Regions from separate parts of the Homo sapiens genome. Here regions 1 and 2 are each linked to region 3. The links come from fine-mapping of genetic effects on gene expression. A gene starts in region 3. Each other region holds a variant in brackets. All regions are shown on one strand. Distances are between the middles of the regions.

What was found.
Region 1: its variant is fine-mapped to the expression of SRBD1 in whole blood (TOPMed, PIP above 0.99). The same link has a PIP of 0.9 or more in blood mononuclear cells.
Region 2: its variant is fine-mapped to the expression of SRBD1 in whole blood (TOPMed, PIP 0.99).

Annotation. Positions count from the first base shown.
Region 1 is chr2:45,540,415-45,551,208 of GRCh38, forward strand. It overlaps SRBD1 (S1 RNA binding domain 1), which reads right to left. Exons shown (of 21, transcript NM_018079.5): 12 at 10,711-10,794; 13 at 7,108-7,198; 14 at 6,318-6,425. Among named protein-coding and RNA genes, the nearest start is that of SRBD1, 65 kb to the right of the region's middle. The variant A/G (reference allele first, on the strand shown) is at 5,958.
Region 2 is chr2:45,563,496-45,574,289 of GRCh38, forward strand. SRBD1 (S1 RNA binding domain 1) reads right to left here. Exons shown (of 21, transcript NM_018079.5): 9 at 9,712-9,847. It also overlaps the pseudogene RN7SL414P. Among named protein-coding and RNA genes, the nearest start is that of SRBD1, 42 kb to the right of the region's middle. The variant T/C (reference allele first, on the strand shown) is at 4,536.
Region 3 is chr2:45,606,842-45,617,635 of GRCh38, forward strand. SRBD1 (S1 RNA binding domain 1) reads right to left here and starts at 4,426. Exons shown (of 21, transcript NM_018079.5): 1 at 4,378-4,426. RefSeq lists an enhancer at 4,077-4,246.

The DNA.
Region 1 (10,794 bases), 66 kb before region 3:
ACTATAAAACTTCTAGTACAAAACAGAAGAAAATCACAGTAACCTTGATTTTGCCAAAATTTCCAGAATAGAAAACAAAAAGCAAAAACTATACCAAAAAATTGATAAATTGGACTTTCTCAAAACTAAAATTTTTGCCATTCAAAAGATCCTGTTTAAAAAAAAGTGAAAAGTCACAGACTGGGAAAAAATGTTTATGAAACATATACCTGACAAAGGGCTTAATTCAGAATAAATAAAAATACTCTTATTCAATAATCACAAGGAAAACAATCCATTTTTTTAAATGCAAAGATTTGAACAGATACCTCACTAAAGAAGATACATGGATGGCAAATAAGCAAATGAAGATGCTCATGATCATTAATCACTAGGAAAATGCAGATTAAAACCACAATGAGATATCACTACATATCCACTAGGGCAGCTAAATTTAAAAGGCTGACCATACCAAGCACTGACCATAACTTCATAATTCCATTGAGGATACAGAGAAACTAGTGTTACGGAATCCTTAGGGTGTCACTTTTCCAGCCAGACACCTCTGTGGCCAGTGGTGCCTTTGTCCGAGTTTTGCTCAGGCCCCCTGGGCTCGTTCCACTCACTCAAGCTGGCAGGCTGTGCTTGGCTGGTGCTACTGGCCCAGATCTCACCCTGCCAAGGGTGAGCCAGGCGTAGTGCGGTGAGCGGTGTGTGAGTGAGCACAGGGTCCGGCCACTGTGCAGAGCTAGGCGTGCCAGCTGTGGCAGGGCAGGTGGTGCCATGCAAGGCTGTGGCTGGACCAGATATATCACATGCAACTACCACTGCAGACACCCACATCTGGACGAGGGGAACACAGTGGTTCCTGGAAGGTGGGAGATGCCAGGAACCAGAGAGTCCCAAAGAGGGTGCCATAGCCCTGGCTTAGGGAGCACCTAGGTCTGGGCTCCCCAAAGGGCTGCAGCTCTTTTCTCCTTCTCAAGGTCTGCAGCATGGCAGGCAGGAGGGCATGTTTCAGCCCTGTTTGTGTTACAGCTGTTTCAGATCCACCATTTGGTGGAACCAGAGTTCTTGTCCCATGTCCAAGAAGAATGAGGTATGTGGACAACTGGAGGGTGAGCAAGGCAGAGAGGAACTTCACTGAGTGACAGAACAGCTCTCAGAAGACCCAAAGCGGGCAGCTCCTTTCCGCAGGCAGGTTGTCCCAATGAGTGTCTAGCTCTCAGCAGAGAGGAGACCCACAGTGGGTAGCCCCTTTCTGCAGGCAGGTTATCCCAATGAGTGTCCAGCTCCCAGTGGAGAGGAGATGGGCAGTGGGTAGCCCCATTCTGCAGACAGGTCTCCTGACAAGTGTCCAGCTCTCAGCAGAGAGCAGACCCAAAGTGGGTGGCTCCTTCCCATAGCTGGTAGTCCCAACATTTGTGTCAGTCTGGCTGAGTCCAGGGTTTTTATGGGCTCAGAAGGGAGGAATGCATGCTGATTGGTCCATGGGCAGCCATGGGCATGTCTGGAAAAAGTACCATAAGTTCACACTCCCGGCCACAGACTCCACCCAGAACTGGCAACCTGGCCTCCAGACTTCACGTAGGCCCTGGCTTGGAGGTGGGGGTTTCACTGAGACCTGCCCCTTGCTGCACAGGAATGTCTGCCTCCCACCATCAGCATGCATCCATGGTGCATGGGCTGTTTGTGCCAGGGGACACCTGTAGGCCTGTGCCAAGCTGCCCTTAGCCATCACCCCACCCCAGCCTCACTCCTGTGTTGGTTGGTGCCCAAAATCCTGAACAGGCTGAGGCAGCAGGGGCTGGTGTCAGCACTGCCTCGAGTGCAGGCACACCTGTCCAGGTCGCAACAGTGCCTAGGCTCGGCCACAACTTTGCTCTGTTCTGGAGCGGGTGCTGGGAGCAGGGAGAGGCCAGGGAGGTGGAGCAGGTACTTCCGAGCCTGCAGGGGAAGGGGCATCGCAGGCCCCTGAGAGTGCAGGGATGCCCAGGTCCAGAGCTGTAGCTGGGCAGCTGCAACTGCGCCCAGGAGCATGGGGCTCCTCTGCCCCACTAACCTGGTAGGAGGTGGGGCTCCCATCACCTGTGGAGCATGCAACCCAAGCCACAACTCCCCTGCTGCAGCCAGTGTCTTCCCAGCAGCTGCTCCAGATGGGCTGCCACTGCCACCACTAGAATTCTGATACATTGTTGGTGGGAAAGTAAGATGGTACAACCATCTTGGGAAAAAGCTTGACAGTTTCTTAAGTTAAACATGTACCGTATACCATATACCACACAACACAGACTTTCCACACCTAGCTATTTACCTAAGAGAAATGACAGCATATATCCATACAGACTTGTAAATGAATGCTCATGCTGCTTTATTGGTAGTAGCAAAAAACTAGCAACAACTCGAATATCCATCAACAGGTGATTGAATAAACTAATTGTGATACAGCCAAACAATGAATACTGTTCAGGAATAAAAAGAACCACTGGTTTCTGCAGCAACAAGGATGAAATCTCAAAATAATCATGCTCCATGAAAGAAGCCAATAAAAGATTATACACTGTATGATTTCATTATGTATAAATCTAAAAAACACAAACTAATGTATAACTACAAAAGCAAAATGAGTGCCTACCATATGTCAAAAGATTGAAAACTGCAAACCATTCTAGCATATACTTTAAACAAATGACCCATAAAACTGTAGAATTTTTCACGAACATTTTCAACTTTCATTTTTTCATGAACATTTCAACTTCAACTATCACAATTCAGTATGTGATAACTGAGACTCAGCATGGTTACATTCTGCAACTTAACTCCAGTTTAACTTTTTGCTCCTTTGGTAATTAGAATTTGCACCTTTGGATGACTTGCCCCCTAATATGTGTAAGTATCATGATTCGTAAGGTATTTTAAGGGTAGGGAGAGAAATGAATGAGAGAAAAGACAGATGAATGGGTCAGGTTTCCTGGGGTTTATGAATTAGGATATATATCATGGCATTTGTTAACCTATGGCAGCATGTCAGGGCAAAGAGTGTTGGAAGGAACAGATAAGAGGAAATGTGCTGGTAGATATGGCTGGAAAAGGTTTTTCAGGATGAGTGGCTGACAAGATTATAGATTAACCTATCAGATTATCTGTTCAGAAGGTATTAAAAATGGCTGCCAGAGAAAGACTGGAGATTTCAATTTCAGTGTAACTTCAAAGTGTAAGATGAGAAAACATGGTTTTCTCAAACAGGCACTTTGAATTGGCAAAATGATAATAAAATGAAATTAAACAGCTGATTTTTCTAAAGCACTTGCTATAAATTCCAATTAGATATCTGCATCATTTAAAAACTTCAAAAGCACATATTAGCAAACAAATGCAAAAAGTACATTAAAAGACTAATACAGTGTAAGTAGAGTTAAATCAGAACTGCAAAAATGGTTCAACTGTAGAAAATAGCTACCATAATTAACCACACGGGTAGATTTTAAAACCCAAATAATTATAGCAGAAAGGAGAAAACAGACTATAGGAGAAAGACTACCATCCAAAGCAAGTCTTAAATTGCAACAAAATGGGGCTCTTCTGAAAGAAAATGCCTAATAGAGACTATATTCATAAAAGTGCAAAGAAGGCACCAAAGATCCTGGCTAATACGGTGAAAACCCATCTCTACTAAAAACTATAAAAAAATTAGCCAGGCATGGTGGCGGGCACCTGTAGTCCCAGCTACTCGGGAGGTTGAGGCAGGAGAATGGCATGAACCTGGGAGGTGGAGCTTGCAATGAACCAAGATCGCGCCACTGCACTCCCGCCTGGGTAACAAAGCAAGACTCCGGCTCAAAAAAAAAAAAAAAAAAAAAATTTATATTAATGGGGTCTCCCTAAACTCAAAGATTAGCCCACACTTAACATATTTACTACAAATAGCCTTAAAAATAGGAGATACATAACACATTCCATTTTAAATCTTCACAGTGGTCAATGGTGCTAACAGGTAAGTAACATTTCCAAAGATGAAGATGCTAAAGCTAAAAGAGGATTAAAACTATATGGCTAATCAGAGGCAGTAGGTGGCAGGCCTGAACCTAGGTCGTCTCTATAGCCCACATACTTCACTTCATACCACAGCACCTATGGTGAGGCTCAACTAAAATGGCATCTAATTCATATCCATTAATAAGACTGAACATCTCATGATACCACAATACATAGATTTTACACAAGTACGATAGACATTATTACTATCCAAAGTGGTAGATTTTACTATCATCCCTATTGCATCAAGGTGAAAATAAACTTTATGTAAGTTTATTAATTTGCATAAGAAAATACTGCATCTAATTTCACAGCACTTTTAAAGACATATAATTTATATTTATAATAAAAGTACGTATATAAACAAATACAAACACACTCATAAAAAAACATATTGTTTATTAAACCCTTAGTGTTTTAATTTATGTTATCTCACTTTTAATACTGTTAAAAAACCTGTAAGGTAGGTATTCTTTTCCCCATTTTAAAAATGAAGGAAAGTGAAGCTAAGAAAGGCTAAGTAACTCTTCAAAACCTACATAACTAGTAAATGATTAAAACAAAAGATGAGGCCGGGCGCGGTGGCTCATGCCTGTAATCGCAGCACTTTGGGAGGCTGAGGCAGGCGGATCACGAGGTTAAGAGATCAAGATCATCCTGGCTAACACGGTGAAACTCCATCTCTACTAAAAATACAAAAAATTAGCCGGGTGTGGTGGCGGGTGCCTGCAGTTCCAGCTACTCGGGAGGCTGAGGCAGGAGAGTGGCATGAACCTGGGACACAGAGCTTGCAGTGAGCCAAGATTGTGCCACTGCACTCCAGCCTGGGTGACAGAGCGAGACTCTGTCTCAATTAAAAAAAAAAAAAAAAAAAAAAAAAAAAAAAACAGATGAACCCAGATTTGTCTGACCCCACAGTTCATCCTTTCCTTTCTAATAGTACATACTGCCTAAAGTTCAATAAAGGGATATTCTATAAGCAAATGAAGAAAAAACTGAAGACATCTTCACTACTTAATATTTTTTATGATTTGAAAGTTGTACTTATAACCACTACAAATGTATGCAAGATATTTACATGAAATTAATGTGAACAAGTTAAAAAAAAATCAGAGAAGGTACCTGAAATAAACTGAACCAGCTACATCAGTGCTTGTGTTAGTTTCTCAAAAGGACTGGGTGCACGTTTGCAGTTCCCAGAATAGGGAAGATCCACCGTATTTCCCAGGCCAACTTAAATTACAACCAGAGAAAGAGGGAAAAATTCTGCAGTGGATGTTTCAATCTGTTTCCTTCTTGAATCATGATCCCATGGCACCTATCGGTTTGTTCCTCACCTTCTCTTACTCCCCTTGTTACCCTGAGTTTGTTTTTCTGACTGACTCTGACTACACTCTTGGCACTCTTGACTATAATAACTGCCTGGCCTTTACCTTTTGGCCTACCTACACAAATCCTAGAATTCTTCCTGTGTTAGGTTTTACTTTCTGTTACTTTGTTGATCCTGTCAGTCACCTGCTCATCAGTCAACCATTCTTTTAGTTATTAGTTTTCTCACTAGCAGTGGGAGATAGCTCTTGATCACTTTCTGTTAAATATCAGCCATTATAACTACTCTCTCTCCTAGAATTAAATCCTTTAGGACTTAATATTCTACTATAGTTTGGAAAAGGAAGACATGACTATTGAGATCCAAAGAGGAAGTAGGGAAACAATGGTGAAAGAAAGCAGAACTACTACAAATGCAGGGGCAAGACTAGAGAAATTGGGTCTTTCTAATCCAAAGCTATTCACAAGTTATCTGTATGCCTATATGAAATAAAAGTTTGTGACCAAGGGATAAATGAGGAAAGAATACTGGAAATACTTTTTAATTCATAATACTTACCTTGGCTCTCAGTTCTGAAGGGTAATGATTCATAGGCTTCAAAGCTTTGGGAGAA[A/G]AAGGCTAAGTTATTCACAGTCTACTAGCTGCTAGCCTGGTACATCATTCTACTTATTATTCAATAGTTAACTAGAACCCTCACACAATGTATAGCCTAGAAAATCCAATGAAACTGAGCCCTAACGTGCTGCTTCTGTAAGAGGTTTCTGGACTCTGTCCTGCTCTAATCATTCCTGTCTCAAATTTCTCCAAGAGTCAGACACTTTACATTATCCTGCAAAGTTCTCATGAACACCAAGAGGTGGTCTGGAGGGCAAAGAAGATGTACATCTTAAAAAGAGAAGGGAGGATTCATCACAAAAGCAACTTTAAAGTTCCCATGCTTCTCCAAGAAAAGAGATATATGTAATAGCCTTACCAGTAAACAACATCCAGTGGTGCAAAATAATTCTTCATTATCAGGTCAGCAAAGTAAGCTTCTGTTTCCCTGCAGGCAGTTCCATTTCCAATCACTACTGTGCTGCAGCTTCAAGGCAGAAACAGAATGACAAACTGAATTTCAAGGCATGCTTTGAAATCAGCTGGAGAAAATGTACAGAATGCACAAATACTATTATATGATTCTCTTATTCTCTCATATATACAAGCAACCTGTCCACTGTTGCATAAGGAAAACACAGACTTATATGGAATAAAAGACACTGCCCTGCATTTGGTATAGGAGGCAGCAGAGAAGTATTTTACTGTCACACTATCTCAAAAAAGTCAGCTTTCTTCCCATCAAGAAGGAACCAAAATCAGAGATAAGTCAACTCTGGAGCATTCTAAGCCATCTAAGCCGTAATAAAGATATTATGATTAAATTATATAATATATTGTCAATTTCTGAAACTTCTAACTATAACCACATCTATTCCTCAGATGGAAAGAAGGCAGGGAGAGAGGGAGAAAATTGGAACAGAAGAATGAACTGCTCACATCTGCCCATATTACCTCCTTTATTTGTAATGGTGGCAAAGGAAGGGAGCAGCGTTTCTCAAGTCTCCACATGCAGAGTTCTCCAGCAATTTGCCCCAGAACTGTTTTATATGGTTTATTGTCTCTCACAAAGGCACCTCCCTTAATCCCTCCCTCCAAATTAGGGGCTTCAAAGGTATCTCTGGTTGACTGAGCCACTGATATATTCAAAAGATTACTTATTTTCATACTTGAAATTCAGCAAAAGTGTCTTTATTTTCTCCGCCTCTCGGAAGCCTTGTCCACAATGCAAGTAAACCACATCAGTATGAAGTATCTGACCTTTAAAAAATGAAAAGAATAAGCCATTTTATAAGAAATTACAAAGTGAAACACATGAATGATTTTGTTAAGCAAGTTGTAACAGAAAAGGAGACTGGCTTGTTTTTTATAATGAAGTCTGAACTATTCATATTCACTAAATCAGATTCTTCCTAACCTCTCTGAAGTATTGCTCTTTCCAATTTCACAGGATTCTGTTTGCTACACAAAACTACTATTAATTGGAGAATATGCTAGGATACCTAAAAGAAAAATGGTTTTCACTAACATCTAACATTAATAGTAGCAAAAGCAAACACTAACTGAATTGTTAGTATATGTCAGACACTGTTGTGAGACTATCCTATTTCTTTTTTTCTGGTTGTAGATACATGACTTTATTTACCTTGTGCATATTTAAGACTTATGAGCTTTTCTATATTGCATTATAAAGAAAAATATTTTTTATTGAAAATATTTATAACAATTAAATTTAAAATAATTAAAATTATTTTGATTAAAAGTATTTTTTAAAATTTGAAGATAACTACCTAAAGAATAAAACTGAGCTAAGAGACTAACTTACAAGTTAGGAAAAGAACAGCAAAATAACCCAAAGAAAGCAGAAGATAGAAAATGTTGAAGTTAAAAGCAAAAATTAACAGAAAAAAATGCAACAGAAAAGATCAACAAAGTGTAGTTACAAATCACTTAAGAGAAAAACATACTTTTAGCAATACCAATCAAGTAAAAGAAAGGATAGAAGATACAAATACAGGAATTATATTAGGAATAAAAAGAAGATATAACTAGAGATTGAACACAGGTTTAAAAGATATCTACCATTATAAACAACTTTATATTAAATTATGAAAACAGATAATTAGAAATATCTTACCAAAACAGCTTAAGAATATAGATGTGTTTGTGACATTTTTAGAACAATTATCCTATAAGCAATACAATAACTGAAAACTGATCTAACAACACACCCAAAAGAAAGTATCATAACCAAGTTCCATTAATCTAAGGAAAGTGTGACTTGACATTTTAAAAAATTCTAGTAATATAATTAATCACAGCAACATAGTAAAGGACAAAAGCCACATGATATATGAACAGATGCAAAAAAAAAAAACACTGATAAAATATATTTCCCACTGGCTGTAAAATGAACAGCATAAAAAGACAACTAGGATAACAAAAACAAAAAGTCACGACTATATCTAGAACATAGATAAAATATCCCCACAAACCCCCACCCTCCAAAAAAGCAGGTGGGAACAATGTACTGACAAGACACCTATGCATCAGCATCTGCATGGAAGGAAGCAGAAAGAAACAGTGGAATATATGATGGAACTGAGAACAGGAGAATCCCAAAAATGTCAAAGGCTACTTCCCTGGAAATCTCAACAGTCAGTTTGAGAACAGGAGCTGAAACTGAGAGAGATTCAGCACAAAGGGGATCCAGTACTTCTGAAAGGATTGGAAAACACTGATCCCTATGAACTCTTGAAACTAACTAGTAAAAGATACCTTTAAAGACAAAAATTCCACACTGAGGAGAAACAATTGGTAATCACATTCAAACTGAGCAAAGTAAAGATAGCAACAGCAAAGGAAAAAGAAAGCCCAGATAAAATAAAGGAAAGCAACAGAGAAGCAGATTCCAGAAACTATAAACTATCTCTCAATCCACACAGAGTTTTTTTTTTTAATGATTTGGAAAAAACAGAAGAGCAAGTTCTAGAGATATACAGTGAGAACAACTTGCCTGACCCAGCTTCTACTAAAAGTTCAAACTAACGTATGTAAAACTAAACAAAAGAAATGCATGATAGTCAAATTCTATATAGAATGATTATTTTTTTAAGCAAAAAAATTTTTAAAAGACTAATATAATGTCCTTACAGAAAGATGTGCCTAATGTATGAGAACAAGCTTCTTAAAAAAAAACATTACAGAAAATAAGAGTAACGTTAATTCTGGCTCATGCTGGTAATCCCAGCACTTTGGAAGGCCAAGGCAGGCACATAGCTTGAGCTCAGGATTTCAAGACCAGCCTGGGCAACATGACGAAACTCCGTCTCTACTAAAAATACAAAAAAAAAAAAAAAAAAAAGGCAGGCATGGTGGTGCGTGCCTATGGTCCCAGCTACTCGGGAGGCTGAGGTGGGAGGATAGTTTGAGCACAGGAAGCAGAGGCTGCAGTGAGCTGAGATCACGCCACTGTGCTCCAGCCTGGGTAAAAGAGCAAGACCCTGACTCAGTAAAAGTTAAATAAATAAAAGAATAACATAAGTCAAAATTAGAAAATCTCAGAAATTAGATGAGATAAACTGGGAATGAATTCGAGATGAAAGAAAAAATTATTTCAGAAATGAAAATCTAAACTTAAAAAATTAAAATAGTAAAGGCTAATAGAAAATAAAACAAGAAGTTAAAAGATCAAAAACATTAGAAATAAAGAAGTTCATAGGGAGCTATAACCCTATTTTTCAAAGTATCAAATGGAAATTCTAAAACTGAAAAACCAACCACTTGAACCCAGTAGATGGTTTTAGTAACAAATTAGACATAGCAGGATAGAGGATTAATTAACTTAGATGATCAACAGAAAATAAACAAAAAGGAGAGAAGAAACTGAAAGGTATAATATGTATGTAATTGGAGTTCCAGAAAGAGATGCTAGAAGCTCCACAAACCCTAAGTGGAATTCATGCAGAAAAGAAAAGACAAGAAAACCCATACATACACACCCACTGAAGCACATCATAAGAAAACTGAGAAACACAAAGAGAAAATCTTAGCAGCCAGAGGAAAAGGACATATTACCTTCAAAGGAACAATAACAAATAACCACAGTTTGGCTGACTTCTCAACAAAAATTACAGTAGCCAAAAAAAAAAAAAAGAATGACATCTTTAAAGTACTGAAAGTAACTGCCAATCTTGAATTCTACACCAAGCAAAAAATATTCTTCAAAAATGAAGGCAAAACAGAGATGTTTTCAGACAAACTAAAACTAAGACAATGTGACTCATTAAAAGTAATAGCATAGAGTTCTTCAGGCAGAAAGAAAATGATCTCAAATGGAAGCACGGAAATGCAAAAGAAATGAAGAATATCAGTGTAAATGTAAGTAAACAGGAAAAAAAATTGAGCAAAACAATAAAAATGTCTTTTGGTATTTAAAATATAAGCAGAATTAAAATGCATCATATATAAATGCATCACAATAATAGAATCTGATGGGGAATTAATAGAGTTCAAGTCCGAGCCTAATTAATCCTCAATATCTCTACTGAGATATAGGAAGCATATAAATGATAGTTGTATATTGAGGAGTTTGATCAACAAATGAGAGAAAAATGAAGTTTGATTATCTGGTTCCCAACACCCCTGTATGTGAGAAAACCACTTTTTAAGCCTTTAAAATTAACATTATTTCCAAATCCTCATGAAATGTATGAAGTGAAACTTATAACCAACCAAACAACTTTTACATGGAAAATTGCAAGACAACTTACTAGTAGGAGAAATTATAGCTAATTTGCAACCATGTTTATAACCAGGATCCACTCCCATTAAGGTGCGCCCTGGAACAGGGCTTG
Region 2 (10,794 bases), 43 kb before region 3:
AAATATCAACAAAACCATAAGTTGGTTCTTTGAAGATATCAACAAAATTAACAGACCTTTCGCTAGACTAATCAAGAAAAACAACAGGAAACACTCAAACACCAAGATCAGGAACAAAAGAGAGGCCACTACTAAGGACCTTATAGAAATAAAAAAGATTATAAGAGATACCATGAGCAACTGTATGACAAATTAGATAACTAAGATAAAATGGACAAATTCCTAAAAGATACAAACTACCAAAAACAAACCAAAAAGAAACAGAAAATCTGAACACACCTATAAAAAGTATGGACACTGAATTAGTAATTTGAAAATTTCCCACAAATAAATGTCCAGGCCCAGATGGCACCACCATTGAATTCTACCAAACATTCTAAAAAGAATCAATATCCATTCTTCACAAACTTTCCAAAAGATATTAGAGAAGGAAAAACTTCACATATATTTCTATGAGGCCAGTATTACTCTGATACAAAAACCAGACAAGACTTCACAAGAAAACTACAAACCAATATCTCTTATGAATATAGATGTAAAAATCCTCAATAAAGTAATAGCAAACCACATCCAGAAATATATAAGAAGGATTATACACCAAGATCAACTAGAATCAATTCCAGGAATGCCCGGTTGATTTAACATCTAAAAAATCAATTAACCTAACACATTATATCAATAGAATAAATAACAAAAATCCTATGATCATCTCAATAGATGTGGAAAAACATCTGACAAAATCAGGTAGCCCTTCATGATAAAAAACACTCAAAAAACTTGGAAATATAAGGAAAGTTCTTTAATATGAGAAAGGGCTTGTGCACAGAAATCTCACAGCTAACATCATATTTACTGGTCAAAGACCAGGAACAAGACAAGCGTGTCCACTCTCACAACATTGTACTGAAGGTTCTAGCCAGGGAAAAGAAGGGAGGCCATCTATATTGGAAAGGAAGATGTAAAACTTTCTCTATTTGCAGCTAACATGATCTTATATATAGAAAATTCTAAGCAATCCACTACAAAACTATTAGAACTAATAAAGAGTTCAGCAAAGTTGCAGAACACAAGCTCAACAAATAAAATTAATTTATACATACTAGCAATAAACATTCTGAAAATAATTTTTTTTAATTCCATTTATGATACCACCAAAAGGAATAAAATACTTAGGAATAAATTTAACAAAAAAAGTTCACAACTTACACGGTTGACCTTTGAACAATACAGGTTTAAACTGCATGTGTTGACTTACACGTGGATTTTTTTCAACCAAACAGGGATTGAAAATACAGTAATTGCAGGATCTGAAACCCACGCATAAGGAGAGCTGATTTTTCATATACATGGGTTCTGCAGGGCCAACTCTGGGACTTGCATATACATAGATTTGGGTATATGCAGGGATCCTGGAATCAATCTCCTGTATATACCAAGGAACAACTGTACTATGAAAACTACAAAACATTGTTGAAAGAAATTAAAGAAGATCTAAATAAATACCCATGAACATCCCATGTTCAGGGATCAGAGGGCCTAATATTGCTAAGATGGCAACACTCCCCAAGTTGATTTACAAATTCAGTGAAATCCCTATCAAATCCCAATTGGCATGTTTTGTGGAAACTGGTGAACTAATTTTAAAACACATATAGTAATTCAAAGGACTGAGAATAGCCAAGTCAATTTTTAAAAATCAAAATAAACTTGGAAGATTCCCACTTCCCAATTTCAAAACTGACTACAAAGCCACAGTTATCAAGACAGTGGGGACTGGCATAAGGATAGACATACAATGGAATAGAATCGGAGTCCAGAAATAAACTTATACATATAGTGTCAACTGATTTTCAACAAGGGTACCAAGATAATTCAATGAAGAAAATCCAATCTTTTCAATAAATCATGAATAACTAGAACTCACCACATGCAAAAGAACAAAAGTGGACGGACCCCTACTTCACGCTATACATAAAAATTAACTCAAAATTGATCTTAGACCTTAATACAAGAACTAAAACTATAAAATTTCCATTAAAAAAGGAGAAAATTTTTATGACCTCAAGTCATAAAGCCTTCTTAGATATAACACCAAAAGTGTAATCAATAACAAAAAACTAGATTGAACTTCAACAAATTTTAGTTTTTGTGCCTCAAAGAATAGTATCAAGAAAGTGAAAAGAAAATGCACGGCATGGGACAAAAATTTTTGCAAATCATATGTCACATAAGGGTATCTAGAATATATTTAAAACTCCTACAGCTCAACAATAAGGAGACAAAACCCAATTTATTCATTTATTTATTTTCTTAAGAGATGGGGTTTCACCATGTTGGCCAGGCTGGTCTCGAACTCCTGACCTCAGGCGATCCGCCTGCCTCAACCTCCCAAAGTGCTTGGATTATAGGCGTGAGCCATCGCGCCTGGCCACAACCCAATTTAAAATGTACAAAAGATCTGAAGAGGTATTTGTTCAAAAATTATATACAAATGACTGATAAGTACATGAATAGATGCTCAGCATCATTAGAGAAATGCAAATCAAAACACAAAAAGATGGACAATAAATGTTGGGAGGGATGTAGAGAAATCGGAACCTTCACAAACCGCTGGTGAGAATGTAAAAATGGCATAGCCACTCTGGAAAATATGGCAGTTCCTCAAAAGGTTAAATGTAAAGCTACCATATAACACAGCAATTATACTCCTAGGTATATATCCAAGAGAAATAAAAACATATGTCCACACAAAAACTTAGACACGAATGTTCATAGCATTATTCATAATATCCAAAAAGTAGAAACAACCAAACTATTCACTGACTGATGAATGGATAAGTAAAATGTGGAGAATCCATATAATGTAATATTACGTAGCAATAAAAAGGAAAGGCATACTAATACATACCATAACAGACAAACTCTGAAACCATTATGCTAAGTGAAAGAAACCAGCGGCAAAAGTCTGCATATTGTATGATTCCTTTATATGAAATGACCAGAACAGACAAATCTATAGAGATAGAAAGTTGGCTGCCTAGAGCTTGATGCAAGGAAATATTTGGGAGAAAAATGTCCTAAAATTGCTTGTGGTAATGGTGACACAACTGAGTGAATTTACGAAAAACCATTGAACTTACAAAGTTCTAATGGTTGCATTAAATGCAATATGAATTTTACTTCAATAAACCTATTAGAAAATTAAAACACTCTTTTCTTAAAGCACTCTTTAATACCAATTATTAAGATGATAAATAGTAACACAAATTAACCAAATAATTTAATCAAGTTAACAGCCTCCCTTAAATATCTGCTAGTCTGTAACTATATATTTATGTATATTATATATTAAAAATTAAACAACATCACTTCAACATATATTCAGATTTCTCACTAATTCTTAATGGCTTTCTTCCAATTACTCTTAATGAATGGGATTTTAATAAACTAAGTTCTCCCTTTACAGGACACAAACTGATATTTTAACAATTTTAGCACATTTCCATGAGGATCTCTAACAAAAACTTAGACTTCCTATCTGTGGTGAAACAAGCTTAGAATAATTCAACTTAATATTACCACAAAATAATTCTACCACGAAAATTTCTCAATTTGTGCTTCATGTTGAAAAGAATGTCAAAAGATAAAACGCGTATTTTTTTGTAACTTTAATTTAAATTTTAAAAATATTGAGTAAAATTTTAAATATCAAACAAATTGTCAGAGTTTTAAAAAAATTATATAGGGGACTTTTTTCTTTTCTTATATACTTGAGAAATTTCTAAAGTAAACATCAGCAGAAATAGAACAATCACTTAGAAATAAATGTTTCGGCTGGGTATGGGGGCTCATGCTCATAATCCCAGCACTTTGAGAGGCCAAAGCAGGAGGACTGGTTGAGCTCAGGAGTTCAAGATGAGCCTGGGCAACATGGCGAAACCCCAACTCTCAAAAAATACAAAAATCAGCCAGGTGTGCTTGTGCATGCCCATAGTCCCAGCTCCTCAGGAGGCTGAAGTGGGAGAATGCCTTCAGCCCGCAAGGCGAAACTTGCAGTGAGGTGGGATTCTGCCACTGCACTCCAGCCTGGGTGAAAGAGCAAGATACTGTCTAAGAAAAAAAAAAAAAAGTAAGCTTACATAAAACAATATATTCAATAATACTGCACAGAACTATCTATAAAGAAATAAATTGTGAATACAAAATAAACTTCAGTTTGAGCTCAGCAGAGACTTCCGTATTTGCTATAGGCTGTGCCAGCTTAGTAAACAGAAGTTCTTCATACAAGAAATTTTCTCTAATAAATTAAGTAGAGTACAACAATATAGAGGAGAGTTATTTAATTCCGATTTACATAAGTATACCATAATATCACAATACATTATTGGAGGTTTTTTGCTCTTTTTCACCATACCTAGTAATGTAATACGTCAAACTTACAAAAAATCCTGACACACAGGAAGACCCATGGTGGAGAAGGGAATAAGGTAACAGAAATAATAAAGCTTGGGACAGAAACTGAAATTGAAAGTGAG[T/C]AGTGGGTTAAAGCGGAATTACTGCAGATGGTGACATTGAACAGGAAATAGGTAGTTAAGACACAGGAAATTGCACGTCAGTAAAAAGACACACCAATAAAGATAAGGAACAGAAAGTCCCATGAGAGAATGTGAAGACTGAGTTACAAATTCATGTGGTAGAAAAGATCACACTAAGGACCAATTTGAAAAAGAAAGAAAAAAAGATGCAGCTGGAAGAATTTACTAAGCAGCTATTAACGGCTATTCCCACAGTACTTGGAGAGAGTTCCACAGTAATTTTCCTTCACCACACTGTCTTTCATCATTTGCATTCATTTCTGTGTTCTGTGATACTGTGCTGGGGTTATCTACATAAAGGCTGAAAAGTAAGGTTCAGATTTAGGACATGAGGTCTCAGCACTATAGGAATTGGGAAGCTGTTTTTGTAACCTAGCATATCATCACTCCGGCCTGTACATGATAAACTAAAAAGTTCGTAAAACAGCAGTGCTGTTTTTCAAAACTGACATTTCCAAAATGCTCTGCTTTCCCAGGCCTGAATACTGTCACACCCAGAAGCCTGTGTCAATCATAATCTTAAATTCAGTCACTAACTCAGAATGCCACATTTGCTACACACACTAGTTAAAATGCAGAGCCCAATAAAATATTTTCAAGCAGAAATTAGAAGGCTAGGTTTTAACAGAATAAAAGCATTAATGTTTTTCCAAAGTTGCAATAAAATTAAATCAACATAAAAGGTGGACAAAATAAGACAGAAAAACTACTTCTGCAAAAGGAATGTTAGTATACTTAGTCACTGGTACTATTAAAAATTACTTTTCATTATGTTATACCTGTATCAGTAGACTATAATAACTACGTATGTAAAATTTCACTGTACTTTCTTTCAAAATATTGAAAGTATGTACTTCACCTGATGTGGTAAATATAGTGTACACAAAAGTAAAATTGACAATTTTAGATATAATAGTGAAACATTTCAAATCTTTAAATGGGCAAGGGCCATGTTACCTCTACACCCTAAACAGGACCCAACATAAAATAACCTTTCAGGAAATACTTGTGGGATAATTCACACTCTTCATGTCTTGTTACAACAAAACAAAAATTTTTCACATCTGTGTCATCTTAAATGAAAAACAATTACTTTTTTATTTTTTTAAGAGGCAGGGTCCCACTGTTGACCAGGCTGGAATGCAGTGGCTATTCACAGGAGCAATCCCACTACTAATCAGCACAGTTTTGACCTGCTCCTTTTCTGACCTGGGCCAGTTCACCCCTCCTTAGGCAACCTGCTGGTCTCCCGTTCCTGTGGGGTCACCATATTGATACTAAACTCAATGTGAACACCCAATCGGCATAGCGCACTTCAGCCCAGAAATCCTAGACTCAAGCAATCCTCCTGCCTCAGGGTCCTGAGTAGCTGGGACTACAGGCATGTGCCACCATGCAAAACAATTACATTCTTAATGATGAAAATTAAGTATTACATGAAAGGTTAGGAATACTAGTTTTTTTTCTATTATTCTCTCTTTATAGCAGTAAAATGCAGATAGGAAGAAAAATAAATTTTAAAATTATTTATTGAGAAATTCCGCGTTTGAAAAACACTGGCAGTTTCCTAATTTCAAATCTCCCCCTTCCTTTCTCAAAAAACTATAAAACCAATAAAGAAAATAAATAAAACACAACATAGGACCCACCTCTTTGCATTTCTAGGAGACAGAGAATTATACTGGCATCAGATTTCTCAAATATAACATACAAAGGAAGCCAACAGCAGAGCAACATATTCAAGAAACTTAAGTAAAGAAAATGCAAACAAAAGTGATTATACCATGCCAAGCTATCCTTCAAGTGTTAAGGCCATAGAAAACAATTTTGAATGTGTAAGAACTCAGAGAATATTGTACACATATACCTTTCTTCAGACATTCACTAGAGCAGAAGTTAGCAAACTATGGCCCATGGGTCAAATCCAGCCTGCCACCTGTTTTTGTGAATAAAATTTTGTTGAAACACAACCATGCTCATTCATTATGCATTGTCTATGACTGATTTTGTGTTACACAGCAGTTGCGTAGTTGCAACAAAAGCCATCTGGCTCACAAAACCTTAAATATTTGTTCACTGGACCTTTACAGAAAAAGTTTACCAACTGTATACTAGACTACAGAATAAGTTTCATTCACTCTAAAGGCTTTGGAAAGCTCTGGCAAAAGGACCAAGGGCAAGCATTTAATATAATTGTAGGGCTGAGATTAAAACAAGAGTAGGGAGAGTGGGGTCAATTTCCTTTAAGAAAGCACAGGTTGCAAGGCAATCCTAATACCAAAGCAGACTTCAGGATAAAAAGCATTAAACAAGGTAATAAAGAAAACTTTATATAACGTTAAAAGCCACACTCCAGCTCTGGAATAGAATGAGGAGTGTGCGATACTGTATTTTAAAGACGTTGTTAGGAGTGACATCACTGAAAATTGTGGAGTAGGGAACTCTAAATTCCATCCCTCCACAAAGGTAACTGGTAAGGTAGCAAAAACTGTCAGAATTAACTTTTTCGCAACTATGGAATCTAATAAAAATTTTATAACAACGAAAGAAACACAGAAAGAAGTTGCAGAATTTCTATAAGAGAGCACTTTTAACGTACCCCAGTCTCCAGCTCAGCAGTGGCCTCTGAAGATGACAGCCCACGTTCCTAGGGCAGGTTGCAGAAGGAGCAATATGGACCTTATTCTCAAATAACTATGGTTGTGTGTTTTGATGTCTGGTGTGTCCCTGAGGAACTGACTCAAGGGCTTGTCTTTATTTCACATGCCTTGGAACTTACTCAGGACAGAAGAAGCCTCCCAGGTGGCCTTTGTCAAAAGTACTTAAAGGCAAATATATTAGCCCCAGCCATGAGGGGTAAGGGATAATACAGGAGCAACTAACACAGAGAACAAAAAACCTGTGAAAAAATAAACTTGGAAATGAGATATTTGAGGGAAAAGGGGCTTTTTAAAATTCCTGGGCATGCTGAGGGCTAGGTGTATGCTCTGAAAAGATCTGAGGGAACCTTAAGCTTTCACCTCTAGATGAACTTTGGGCTCCATGCAAACAGGAAGAAAAGGCTACGGCAGAGCTGTTAATGGCCTCACTAAGTGTTGAAGGAGTGCCCCAACAAAGTGCCAATCTGCAAAGTCTGGGAGAGTTTGGGTTTTTTTCTTTTAGGGGATTTTTTTCTTTTAGGGTTTATTTTGTTTTTGTTTTTGGCTCCAGGCATTTAGGGGAATCTCTGTTAAATAACTAGATGGTTACTAAGCTAACAAGGGAGACCTCAGTGGCCACACATAGCAAACAAAATTTACAAAAATACTTAGAAAAGTCACTAGAGCAAACCAACCCCAAAACAAGCAGCAACAACAAACAGGGGAGGGGAGAGAATCTGATTTCCAGAGTTACCAAGTTATAAAATACAACATATCCAGACTTTACCAAAAAAAAAAAAAAAAAAAAAAAAACTGTCCATGAGGAAGCTTAGACATTGACCTTACAAAACAAAGATTTTAAATTAACTCTATTCAATATGCTGAATTCAAGAAAATCATGAACAGAGACCTAAAGAAAGCCAGGAGAATGATCTTTCAACCATATAGAAAAGTAAGAGTTAGAAATTATAAAAAAGAACAAAATAGAAATTACGGAGCTGAAAAGTACAATGACTGAAATAAAAATGTGCCAGGGGTTCAACAGCAAATTTGAATACAAAGAATAAATCAACAAGCCTGAAGATAGGTCAAATGGGAATATACAGTCAGAGAAAAAAGAAAAAAATAAAGAAAAGAAAGCAACAGAGGCTGAGACCTGTGAGACACTATCAATCATACTCTCTACATATAATGGGAGACCCAGGAGAGGAGAGAAAGGCGCAGAAAGGATATTTTTTAAAATTATTATGAAGAATTTCTTAAGTTTGATGAAAAACATTAATCTACACGTCTAAGAATCACAATAAACTCCAAGTAGGATAAACTCAGAAAGACCCATGACAAGACACATTATAATCAAACTGTCAAAAGATAAAGACAGAGAATCCTGAATGCAGCAAGAGAGAAGAGACTTGTCATGAATAAGGCATCGTAAGATTAACAGCTGATTCCTCATAAAAAACTATGGAGGCCATACCATAAGAGTGGATGGTATATTTAGTATTAAAAGGGAAAAATTAAAAACCATCAACCAAGAATTCTATATTTTAAAAACTCTCTATAAAAAAATGAATGAAATGTTTAATGGGCATAGAGTTTCAGTTTTGCATGATAAAAAAATTGCTGGAGATTGGTGGCACAACAATATGACTATGCTTCCCATTACTGAACTGTATGCTTAAAAATGGTTATGATGGTACATTTTATGTTATGTTCATCTTACCACAATTAAACATAAATTTTTTAAAAAAGGAGAAATTAAGATTTTCCAGAAAAACAAAAACTAGGAAGTTTGTCACTAGTAGACCTGCCTTACATGAAATATTACAGGAAGTGCTTCAGACTGGAATGAAAGGGCACTAGATAGTAACTTGAAGCCATACAAAGAAATAAAGAACACTGATAAATGTCATGATATATGTAAATATAAACGCCAGTGTTACTGTATTTTTGGTTTTTATCTCCTTTTTGCCCTATGTAATTTAAAAGCCACATTCCACAATGTAGATATAGCCTACGACTACACTTAGGAAAAAAAATTAGTAAACTGAAAAATGAAATTAAAACACTGAGATACAATGACTGATTTATATAAGTAAATGAGACCTCTCACACTTTATTCTAAATCAGATATCTCATATTTGTATTTCACAGGGAAGAGATCCAGAATTGAGCTCAAATATAAGGATACTGGGAAGCAGAGTCTAACAAAAAGATCACCAGCCAAAAAGTCAAGATACCTAAAATGTTATATTGTCAGCTCTGCTAATAATTCTCAATGTCACTTGTTAACTTCTCCGGGTCATTACTTCCCAATTTGTGAAGCGGCAAGGATATGACAATATTATAAGAATTTATATAAAGAAAAAAGAAAACAGTTGACATAAAATTATTTAAATTCTTAGTAAAGTAGCAGGCAAATCCAAAATATTATCATTATTACGAAATCAGCATGCACATGCAGTTTCTTTATTTACCTGATGATGGTGAATGTTTCTTATGTTGCAGGAAAAATGCTGGTAGAGCAGAAACTTATCAACATCTTTCTCATTTACCTTTTTTGAGGATACTTTTGCCAGAGATGACTGGATACAAACATGTCTCTTCTGGCACCTGTTCAGATACACAAGTGTTCAAAAAACAAGCAGTTATTAATTTGTGCTTTAGTAAAGAATATATAGAAATAAGGATAGCAAAAAAAGTTAAGCCATTACCAAGTGAGTTTTTTTAATGATGCCCAGCTATGAAATTGATATTACTACCCCATCAAAAGGACTCTTTGCCTATTCATACTAGCATAGTCCTCCAGATCTATTTATATATCTACTCAATCTTCCCATAAAATGCCTAAATGAATTCAGAAACCATCTGCAATTATGCAAAAGATCAAAACTATCTATAGAAATCAAACCAATAGCTCTGATCTAAATATCAGACTTTTCTAATCACTAAGACAGTCACAGTCAATTAAAAACTTAAAAAAAGAGAAACAAAAGGATGTGTCAGGACAGCTTCCAATAACAATTTATAATACTGAACCAAATTTAAGTGGCATAATTACTTATAAAAACACATTTTAAAACCTGAGCAATTATTTTGCTTCAACTCATTCCTGCTGGAGCCACTGAGAAAATACAAAAGTTCTTTCTAGCAACAGTAGTCAACTAGGTCATCTCCTCCTTTCCTCTCCTCTGCACAGCTCAAACAGCTAGATATGTGGAGGGAGAGAGAGGAAGAACAAACCTCTAGCAGAAACCTGTCTTCTGATACACAGCAGAAAAAGAACAAAATAATACAAAAATAGGGTTTTTAATTAATGTGTTTTTTTAATGATGCATAAAATCCATAAGCCCAAGAAGGCTCTAGGTCAAAGATCTTTAATGTCTGATAAATTGGGACTGTGATGCCATAGATAAGCTGCTCTCCTCAACAGCTAAAAATCATTTGGAGGTCAGTACTTTTATTCATATCTGATATTACACATTCTCAAGTAAAGCCAATCACTGGTAAACACCAGAAACGAGATACTATAAAATAAGCATACATCACAATCAACATGT
Region 3 (10,794 bases):
ACATGTTTGGAACCCTTTAAACAAGTTTCTGACCCAGTCATATGTTATAATGCCTCTGGTTCTAACATCCGCTTAGAAGAGGAAATAATCTCTCATGGAAATACTAAAGGGGTTGTCACAAAAGGGAATATGTTCTCCCAGCAGCTATAGCTCAACTCAGTCCAGTAAGTACACAATGATTGGGCAAAATAGTGCTCAGAGGGAACCAAAAGAACAACAGGAAAGCAGTCTGCAGGAAGTAGACAGGATAATCTTCCATCTTTCCCTTCACTCTCTTTTTGGCATATTAGGTTATAAAGATCATCCTTTCTCAAATTAGTATTTTTTAGACATTGATCATGAAAGAACAGGTAATTGTGATTTTTATATTATGTGTATCTTACCACAACAAAATAAGAATGGAGGAAGTTAGTGTATGACAAGGGTGGCATTTAAAATCAGGGCAGGGTAAAAATGGATTATTCAATAAATGGTATTGAGACAACTAGCTATTCCTCTAGAAGAAAAAAAGGAGTTTAATTCCTACCTCCACACCATTAACAAAAATTTATTCCCCAATAACTAATAGTTTAAAATGTACAAATTAAAACTATAAAAGAACTAAGAAATAAAGGTGATTCTTTTCACACTATTGAGGGGAGATGGGGAAATGGAGGTTTTCCTAAATATGACTCCTCAAAATTCCAAAACCAAAAAGACTAACAAATTGCAACACATAAAAATTAAAATCCCAAGCCAGTAGTGGGAGCATATGAGAACCAAACCAATTTACCCTGCAGTATTCTAAAAAAAAAAAATTCATATGAAGCAGTAGCTGATACCTTTGGAATTAAAGGTGAAACGGGTTAGGGCTGTGTATAAACTGACAAAGGAATATCTCTAAGTGTCCTACCTCACTTCATGCTATTAGGCAACTGCCCCAGGAAAAAGACTGTAAGTTTATTCTCTGGAGAAGGTATTAATGAAACAGTCTAGACTGTGGGCATGGGAACCATACAGACTGAATGCTAAAGGCAGAGAACCCTAGTCTTCCGCCACTAAATTCCTAAAATACTGCCCTCTAGGGAGGAGAATGGGAAGGCTTTTCTCTGGAGAATCTAACCAGTCCAAGAGTAAAAACTTGAAGGTGCTAAGCTTCCCATCAAACAACCCACCCAGATCACCTTACAATCACTCCTACCACCACATTCTACAATATGCCTGAATTCAGAACATTCCCACACAGACTACCATATACTAATTCTATCTCCACACTTCAGCCTTAACAGAAATGTGTTTAAAATAGGGACAGGCAAACCCTTGGCAGGCTTATGTTTTTGCTTAACCATTATCCTTAAAGAAGGCTCCCCTAAATCAAATATTTCCAACTGCCTCTTTATAAGGCACCCCGAAAGCAATATACCATGGAAAGATGAGTGAGTTGTAATATTTCTTTTCACAAATGTTAAAAATATCAATGTAAAAGGAAAGGTGGGAAAGCAGAATCTGCATGAACACACAAGCCAATTTCAAGCAGATCAGATTTAGAAAGAATATATACAAAAGCTGAAGACTTGGAAATTATGTCTTTAAAACTACCTACGACAGGTACACCCCCAGGAGTATGTATTCTCCAGTTTAAACACCAATATTCTTGAGGCCTGTTTCTCCATCTCCACTACTCCCATATCCTCTTACTTTGTGTCATAAAACTTGTTAGATTAACCAAAACCTCATCCATCTCCACGGTTTTACATACCGATGTCACCTACTTATTAACAATCCTAATCCCTCCATCCCAAACCGTGCCTTTAACATTCAGATTTCTATAATAAACTGCCTGTCTCTGAAACTATTTAGATGTCTCACAGTTAACTTAACACATCCACAATGGAACTCTTGATGACCATTTCTTGCTCTAAAACCTGTTCCTATTCCAGTCCTTCCCATCTCAATAAGTGGCACCCACCTATTTGCTAAGCCAGAACCTTGAAAAAAAAAATTTTTTTTTTTTTTTGAGACGGTCTCACTCTGTCACCCAGCCTGGAGTGATCTCAGCTCACTGCAAACTCTGCCTCCCAGGTTCAAGCAATTCTCCTGCCTTAGCCTCCTAAGTAACTGGGATTACAGGCGTGTACCACCACACCCAGCTAATTTTTCTATTTTTGATAGAGACGGGGTTCGTCACGTTGGCCAGGCTGGTCTCGAACTCCTGGCCTCAGGTGATCTGCCTGCCTCGGCCTCCCAAAGTGCTGGGATTACAAGTGTGAGCCATGGCGCCTGGCCAGAAAATTCTTTAACAGCTTCATTGACATATAATTGACATGCAATACACTGCACATGTTTAAAGTGTGCAAATTTGATGTTTTGACATATGTATACATATCACTACAATCAAGAAAATGAACACATTATCATCCTCCAAAGTTCCATTTGCTAAGTCAAAATGTTACAAATCTTTTTTTCTTTCATCTCACATATCCAGACTATTAGTAAGTCACATAAGATCCTCCTCCAAAATGTCTTGAATCTCCACGATCTTCAGTGAGCCTTTAGTCCTCAACCTCCCTCACTTGAACTACCACACTCGCCTCTTAACTGCCCTCCCTACTTCCACTCTTGCCCCTGCAACTCATTCTCCACTTATCAACTCAAGATCATTTAGAATATGCTTTAGAAACAACGAATTACTTCCCACCCCATCCTTCACTTAGAATCAAGCCACATTTTTATGAGGCCTTTGAAAAGGCCCTGTCGGACTGAGCCCTGCTCACCTTTCTAACCACCTTTACTACTTGCTGGAGCTCCTCAGCTCTTGTCATAACATTCTTTCCCACCTCAGGTACTCTCTGCCTGGAGTATTCTTCCCCCTGCTTGTCAATTGGCTGGCTCCTTGCATCCCTTAGATCTTAACATTTCAGGCCTAAAATAGGTTTCTCAATTATATTTTAAAAGGAGCCTATTTACTTCCTGTATACAGTAGGTTATAACACAATCTGTAATTATTTTTATTTTACTTGTTTATTGCTTGCACTGCTGTCAAGAGAGTAAATACCATGAAAGAAGGAAATGCATGTGCCTTATTCACTTCCATATCATAGAACCTAGCACTTAACAGATGCCCTACAACTATTAAATGAACATAATATGTACAAATATGGTCTCTACAGAGGAATATACATTTATTTTCCACCACTCTTAGGCAATGCCACACATTGCATTCATCTCTTTCTGAAGAAGTGATGGCACATAAGAATATTCCTATTCTTCAGTGACTTGGGATTTTTCCCTCCTTTCAAACTATCTTAATCACTGTAGGCACATGAGCATATTCCAAACCAATAATTTGGAGGTTGCTATGATGTTACTAAGGGAAGAGCCACTAAACTAGGACGACTGCAAATCAGGACAAAGGGGCAAAAGGACGTGCACACTAACAAATACTAAATTAAAATTGGAAAAAAAAATTTAAATTCAAGAAGGCAAACAAAGGAGGACAATTTCTTAAGAAGCACCTAAACAAGTTTCCATGAAGGACCAACAGAGTGCTTGAATGTTAGCAGATTCCCAAGTCACAAAAACAAAATACTAGAGCTGAAAGAACCTGAGATCAGACAGTCCCGCTATATTCAGAAATCTGAGACCCAATGAGGTGAAACAGTTTACTCAAAGGGGAAAGATATGTGGCAAAGGACTATAGCCCAGTGCCTGGAACACCAAGACTAGTCTCGTTTCCCATTCCACACACAATATGTTAATGACATGTCACGTGAGGGGTTCGAGGAAAGTTGCCTAGAGAGTTCCCAATTCATTCCTTTCCTCCGGTTACTGAGCGCCTCCTACATGCCAGGCGCACTACAGAAGGTGCAGTTGATTCAGACAGGGCCACCATGACCGTGAAAAGGGTGCTTCCTCTCCCACCTCCGATAATTTTAGGTATAAAAACAATCCAGGTAAATTAGCCGGGTGTGATGACGGGCGCCTGTAGCCCCAGCTACTCGGGAGGCTGAGGCAGGCGAATGGCGTGAATCCGGGAGGCGGAGCTTGCAGTGAGCCGAGATCGCTCCACTACACTCCAGCCTGGGCGACAGAGGGAGACTCCGTCTCAAAAAAAAAAAAAACAGGCTTGCCCAGGCTTTTCTATGTCTGTTATGCGCTAAGAGCTGCAGCAATTTGGCTGAAAAGAGGTGTCACGAGGTAGCTAGGAGGGGTTTTCGGGTGGTCGGTTGTGAGAGACCGCTGACAGTAAAATGTAATGAACTTCTCACTTTTAAAAAAGGGGTGTTATTGCCCAAATGAGCGCTCAGAACTTTTTTAATGGCCCCAAAGATCCCGGAGCCCGGACGCCGGGCTCTTGAGAACCCGCAAGACGACCGCCAAGGCGCACGCACAGCTCACCTTCCCGCCCGGCACGTCAGAAGACCCGAGATTCCGTGAGTGCCACCGCACCTTCCGGTTCCCGCCGGAAGTTTTTCAAACGCCAGAAGGTCCGCCTCGCTTCTTCCGGACCAAGTTAGCCACAGACCTCCAAGGCGCGGCGCTACCGAACGGGGCGGAGCCAGGCTGGACGGAGGCGGGGCTAGAGCGAGGATCCCGAGGGAGCGCCGGGGTGGGGCTGGTTCGTAGAAATGAAAAATGACTTTTTTTTTACGTGTTATTTACCAAGAACACTAAACTCTTAAGCCCACAGATACAGCCAAATAAATTAGATTATAAAAGTAGGGAAATAAGGCTGCTGTTGTCTACATTCGAATTTAGCAGATCAAAACCCCATGGATTTGTTTTAGAAAATTCTAAAAAGCAGCTTTCCACTGCTAATGACTTATTTCCAGGGACTCTGAGTACTGAAGAGCCTAGCAAGTTATTGAAATGACCTGTGACCGTGCCTTGTTGCAGATCTACCGGAAGTGAGCATAGATTTTACTGGATAATTTTTGTGATTGGGGGAAAAAAAAAAGGATTCTTTCTAAATTTAGTAAATCTAATCTTCTATATCTGAGATTGTTGGCCAGGAAAGATCAGTTTCCGAGATTGTTTAGGGATTTTTTTTTCCTTTTAATTAGCACAGTCGTATGTTGCCTTTAGTGATGGTTCCAGAAGGCCTAGAATTGTCTACTACAATCACAGTCTCCTTCACAATTTATGGTCCTGAAGAAATACTAGAGAACACCTTACCGTTCAGGATTGTGGGAAGAGAAACCAGATCATAGAAATCAACAACAATAATGTACTACTTACTATTCACCTACTTTTGATGTTGCATTTGCTACTCAGGTTTATGGTAAGGGGTTGTCTTGGTCAATTTTCTGCTGCTGTAACCAAATACCATAGACTGGTAGATTTATAAAGAAAGAGATTTGTTTGGCTTGTAGTTCTGAAGGCTGGGAAGTCCAAGACAGAGGGCATTATTGTTGTGTCAAAATATGATGGAGGGCATCATACTGGGGTAGGGGTGGGGGAGGCATGTGAACCCAATTGACTCCCGAAATAACTAACCCTCCTGTGATAATGGAATTAACTCATTCATGACCTAATCATTTCCTAAAGGTCCCACCTCTTCATACTATTACAATGACAAGTTTCAACTTGAATTTTTGAAGGGGACATTCCAATCATTGCAGAGGTAGTAAGGGTAAAGGTGAACTAATATACTGCAAAGTCTTTTGACATAAGTCCTGCCCTGGAGGAATTTACGACCAAGAGTAGGAACCAGATACAGCCAGAGGAAACAGACACCCAAGCAAAACAGTCTAGCTTCAAGGGTTGGGTATGCAGGTAGTAGCCACACTACAGTGAGGAGGAGAGTAAGAGTGGGCCAGCAAAGCATTGAAGCTTGACTTTCCTCTCCCCACAAGGGATTTTTGCCTTACAGCTGGGGAAGAAAAAAAAAATCACAAAAATAAATAGCCTGTTAAGATTTTAGACATCAGACATCTGGGGAAAATAAAATCTGAAGCAGGTTCTCTAAAATTAAAGTATGTAGGTAGTGGCCTACTCTAAAGGCCAATAAGGACTGTCCAGAGAATATTTCCCTTGGAATTCTATAAGAGAGTCACTCCCACTACACGCTGTCAAGGAAAATTTGTAATCACTTAAGTATAAAACAGGCCCTCCCACAAAAACTGCCTTTTCTGTCTAGGACATTGCCCAATCTATTGTTTACTTTTGGATCTCAAGTGCTGAATTCCAAGAAATTCATGGGTTTAGACTGAAAGCCTGGAATAATCCGGACACCCACCTGAGACTATGCAATAGGGTTTGGGAGTAATGAAAACATGTTTTGGATTTGATGGAGGTTGTTTTATCCCTCCAAAGTATATAGCTCTTCCCATGATATTCACTGATACATTATCATTTGTATGTTATTATCTGTTTTCAAGTCCTTCCCCTATGGGTTCTAGCTCCCCAGGGCAAATGTAATAATAATAGTAATAACTTACCTTTATTGATTACTTACCTGTGCCAGGCACTAAGTTAATGCTTTTAGATGTATTTATGTATATAATTCACATATTACCCCAATGCAATATTGCTATTAAACCATTTTTATAAATGAGAATACCAGGTATAAAGAAGTTAAATAATTCATCTAAGGTCACATCAGCTAATAAATTGTAGATCTGAGATTCAAATCCAATAATCTGCTTTACTCCAAAGCAAGTACTCTGAAAGGTATCCACATACAATTTGCTGTCTATCCACAGGGGATTGGTCTGAGGACCCCCCACAGATAGCAAAATTTACAGATACTCAACCAATCAGTGATAGAAAAAGTTGGCCCACCACATCTGCAGGTTCCATATCCATGAATGCAGATACAGATGGCCAGCTGTACCACAAACTCAAAGCAAAGACCTTTTCTCGCTCCACTATGGTGGCCAGTGAGACTCTCAATGTTTAAGGTGCTCCAGAACTGTCGAATCTCTAAATACTCTAAATAAAGTACTGTCTAACCACCTGAAACATAACAAAGCTATTCTCTCTATTGGCCTCAAACTAAGTTTCATAAGAACAAAAATTCTTAATATATTAATAGATGCAACTGTTTCACCTACTAATAGATATTTGGATCTAGGAACTAACTCTTGGTAATTTTTTATCTCCCCCTCTCCAACTTCTCCCTCCACCTACACAGTGCCTAATAATGCTTAACATATAATAGGTACTCAATAATATAGTAGACTAACTCCTGGACCCAAAAACATGTCTAAAGTAAAAACAAATTTTCCTCCCCTCTCCACCTTCTCCCGCCACCCACACAGTGCCTAATAATGCTTGACATATAATAGGTACTCATTAAAAATAGTACACTAACTCCTGGACCCAATAATATGTCTAGAGTACAAACAAATTTCTCTTATGAGAAAAGTAAGTTAAAGCTCTTGACACAGAAGGTGGGTTGCCATTTTAAAAATCAAGTGTACTTATGAAAATTCAAACATTTTATCTCTGAGAGTCAATCAGTGTGATGGTTAATTTTGGGTGTCATCTTGACTGGATTAAGGGATGCTCAGACAGCTGATAAAACATTACTTCTGTGTGTGTCTGTGAGAGTATTTCCAGAAGAGACTGACATTTGAATCAGTAGACTAAGTAAGGAAGATCTGCCCTCACCCAATTTCGGTGGACACTATCCAATTGGCTGAGGCCCAGATAGAACAAAGAGGAAAGGAATATTTTCTTTCTCTCTCTTTTGGAGCTGGGACACACTTTTTCTCCTGCCTTTAAGCATTAGAACTGCATGTTCCTTTGGACTCCAGGACTTAAATCAGTGTACCCTCTCAGCCCCATGTTCTCAGGCTTTTGGCCATGCAGTGAGAGTTACACCATTGGCTTCTCTGGTTCTGAGACCTTCAGACTTGGACTGAGCCCTACTGCCAGCTTCCCTGGCCCTCCAGCTTGCAGATGGCCAATCACTGGACTTCTCAGCCTCTATAATTTTGTGAGCTAATTCCCTAAAAAATATTCTCATATATCTTTATGCTGTATTTATTACACAAACACACACACACACACCCTACTAGTTCTGTTTCTCTGGAGAATTCTAATACAACTAGCAAAGGCAAAAATGATAATAATAATGGCTGTTTCAGATTAAAGAATGAGCAAACAAACTGAGCCCTAGTTCAAAAATTTGCATATTTAATTAGCCAGGCATTGTAGTGGGCACCTGTGGTCCCAGCTACTCTGGAGGCTGAGGCAGGAGAATCGCTTGAGCCCAGGAGGTGGATGTTGCAGTGAGCCAAGATTGCGCCACTGCACTCTGCACTCCAGCCTGGATGACAGAGTGAGACTCTATCTCAAAAAAAAAAAAAAAAAAAGTATGTATTAGCTCCTATCTCCCCTCTTTTCCCACTGTCAGACGTTCTTATTCCTAAACACTAAAGCTCTTTGGCTTCAATGACCTTCTCTGACTAATTCAGCCAGAAATCTGGAGATTTACTGCAAAATGAAAGAGACTAGTAAACAGAGAGGGGCCTACTTCTGTTTCCCAAATGAAAAAGGAGTTTCTTATTAGTGAGGCTGACCAGGCTGGTAGGTGGGTTCTCAAATTTGGCCTGTCCTATTAACTCTTTCAATCTAGCTGGGAACAGCAGCATGACTCCAAAGTGCTAGACTAGTGCTGATGCCATTGTTCTAGCCAGAGTAACTTTGTCAGTCTTTCTTATGAAAGAGTAAAGATTCAAGAGATTAAAACCTGAGTCTTTATTAAATATTAAATGGATCTGGAGGAAGCATCAGTTAAGGTTGAGGAAATTAATTGTACAGATTTGTCAAGGAATTGGAATCAAAGGGATTGTATACATCAAATTTATCTCACACAAAGTAAAATTATGGAAACTGCATATTGAAATACAATATAATTTGTATCTTTAGGTGAAAACTAAAATGTTCAGTGCTTTATCCTACTTATTTTGTACAAATTCCTAAGGTATTTTGTAATGAATGCAGTTATAAATAGGATTAAGACCCATAAAAAACATAAATAATAGATGAAATACCATATCTATTGCATGGTCCACTCTTCCACTGATCACTTACCTTGCAAAGTCACTGGCTAAGAGGCATTCAATTGGTTGCAATCATGAGCAAACATATTGAAATTTTTTCTCCTGTTGAGTTTCTCATCAGTAGTGCTCAGGGACCATCTCAAAGGCCTAAAATATCTATTAAACAGTCTGAGATCCAAGTATGGAAACCCCAGAGGGCTCATTAAGATCCTGATGATGCCATGGCTGGCTGGGTTTCAAGGAAGGGATAAATGGCAGCATAATGGGGCCAGATTTATTTTAGTCAAATCTGGACTAACCACAGGTAGCCATGTCTGGATACTGTAATTCAGAACTAAATATTATATCTAGTACCATTGGTCCATCTTCCACCTTAATAAATTGAAACTATCCTGCAAAGTGCTTGCTTGAAACATTCATCTAGGAATGCATATTGTCAGAATTTTAGTACTAGAGCCTTCACACACTGGAATTCAAATTCAGAAAAGCATGGTGTGTCAGATCAGTCTATGTCCAAATTTGTGTGTACTATTTTTTTAGTCAGGTTTATTGAAGTATAATTTACATAGAGTAAAAGTCAGCTTTTTTATTCTTGCAAACACATATAGTTGTGTAACCATCACCACAATCAAGATATAGAACACTTTAATCATTCAAAAAAATGCCCTTTTATAGTCAATCTTTTCCCCTTCCACCAGCACCTGGCAAACCACTGATCTGTTTTCTGTTCCAATAATTTTACCTTTTCCAGAATGTCTTTATTAGTCCATTCTCACGCTGCTATGAAGAAATACTTGAGACTGGGTAATTTACAAAGGAAAGGTTTAATTGACTCACAGTTCTGCATTGCTGGGGAGGCCTCAGGAAGCTTACAATCATGGCATAAGGCAAAGGAGAAGCAGGCACCTTATTCACAGAGTGGCAGGACAGAGTAAGTGTCAGCAGGGGAAATGCCAGACGCTTATAAAACCATCAGATCTCATGAGACTCATTCACTATCATGAGGACAGCAAGGAGGGAACCACCCCCATGATCCAATTACCTCCACCTGGTCTGACCCTTGAAACGTGGGGATTATGGAGATTTGGGGGATTACAATTCAAGATGAGATTTTGGGTGGGGACACAGCCAAACCATATCAATATTATATAAATGGAATCATATGGCATGTAACCATTTGAGTCTCATTTCTTTCACTTATTATAATACATTTGAGATTAATGCACATCATTGCATGCATCAGTAGTTTGTTTATTTTTATTGCCAGTTAGCATTCCATTGTGTGGGTATACCACAGTTTGTTTATCCATTCATCAGTTGATAGACTTCAGTTGTCTCCACTTTTTGTCTGTTATGAATAATGCTGCTATGAACATCCATGTACAAGTTTTTGTATGGACAAACGTTTTCATTTCTCTTGGGTAAATAAACACCTAGGAACAGAATTGCTGAGTCATAAGTGTGTCTTTAGTTTTTCAAAGTAGCTGTATCATTCTGCATTCCCACCAGAAATGCGTGAGAGTTCCAGTTGTACCACTTTTTGCCAGAACTTGATGCTGTCAGGTTTTTAAATTTTTTGGCATCCTAATGTGTGTATTTCATTTCCCTTATGACTAACAATTTGTATTAGTAATGCATTTATTTGCCATCCACATATCTTCTTTGGTGAAGTGTCTGTTCAAATCTTTTATTTTTAATTTGACTTTTTGTTTATTGAATTACAAGAGTTATTTATATATTGTGGATACCAGTCCTTTGTCAAATATGACACCTGGCTTTAAGAGGTGTATGTTATTACAGGCAA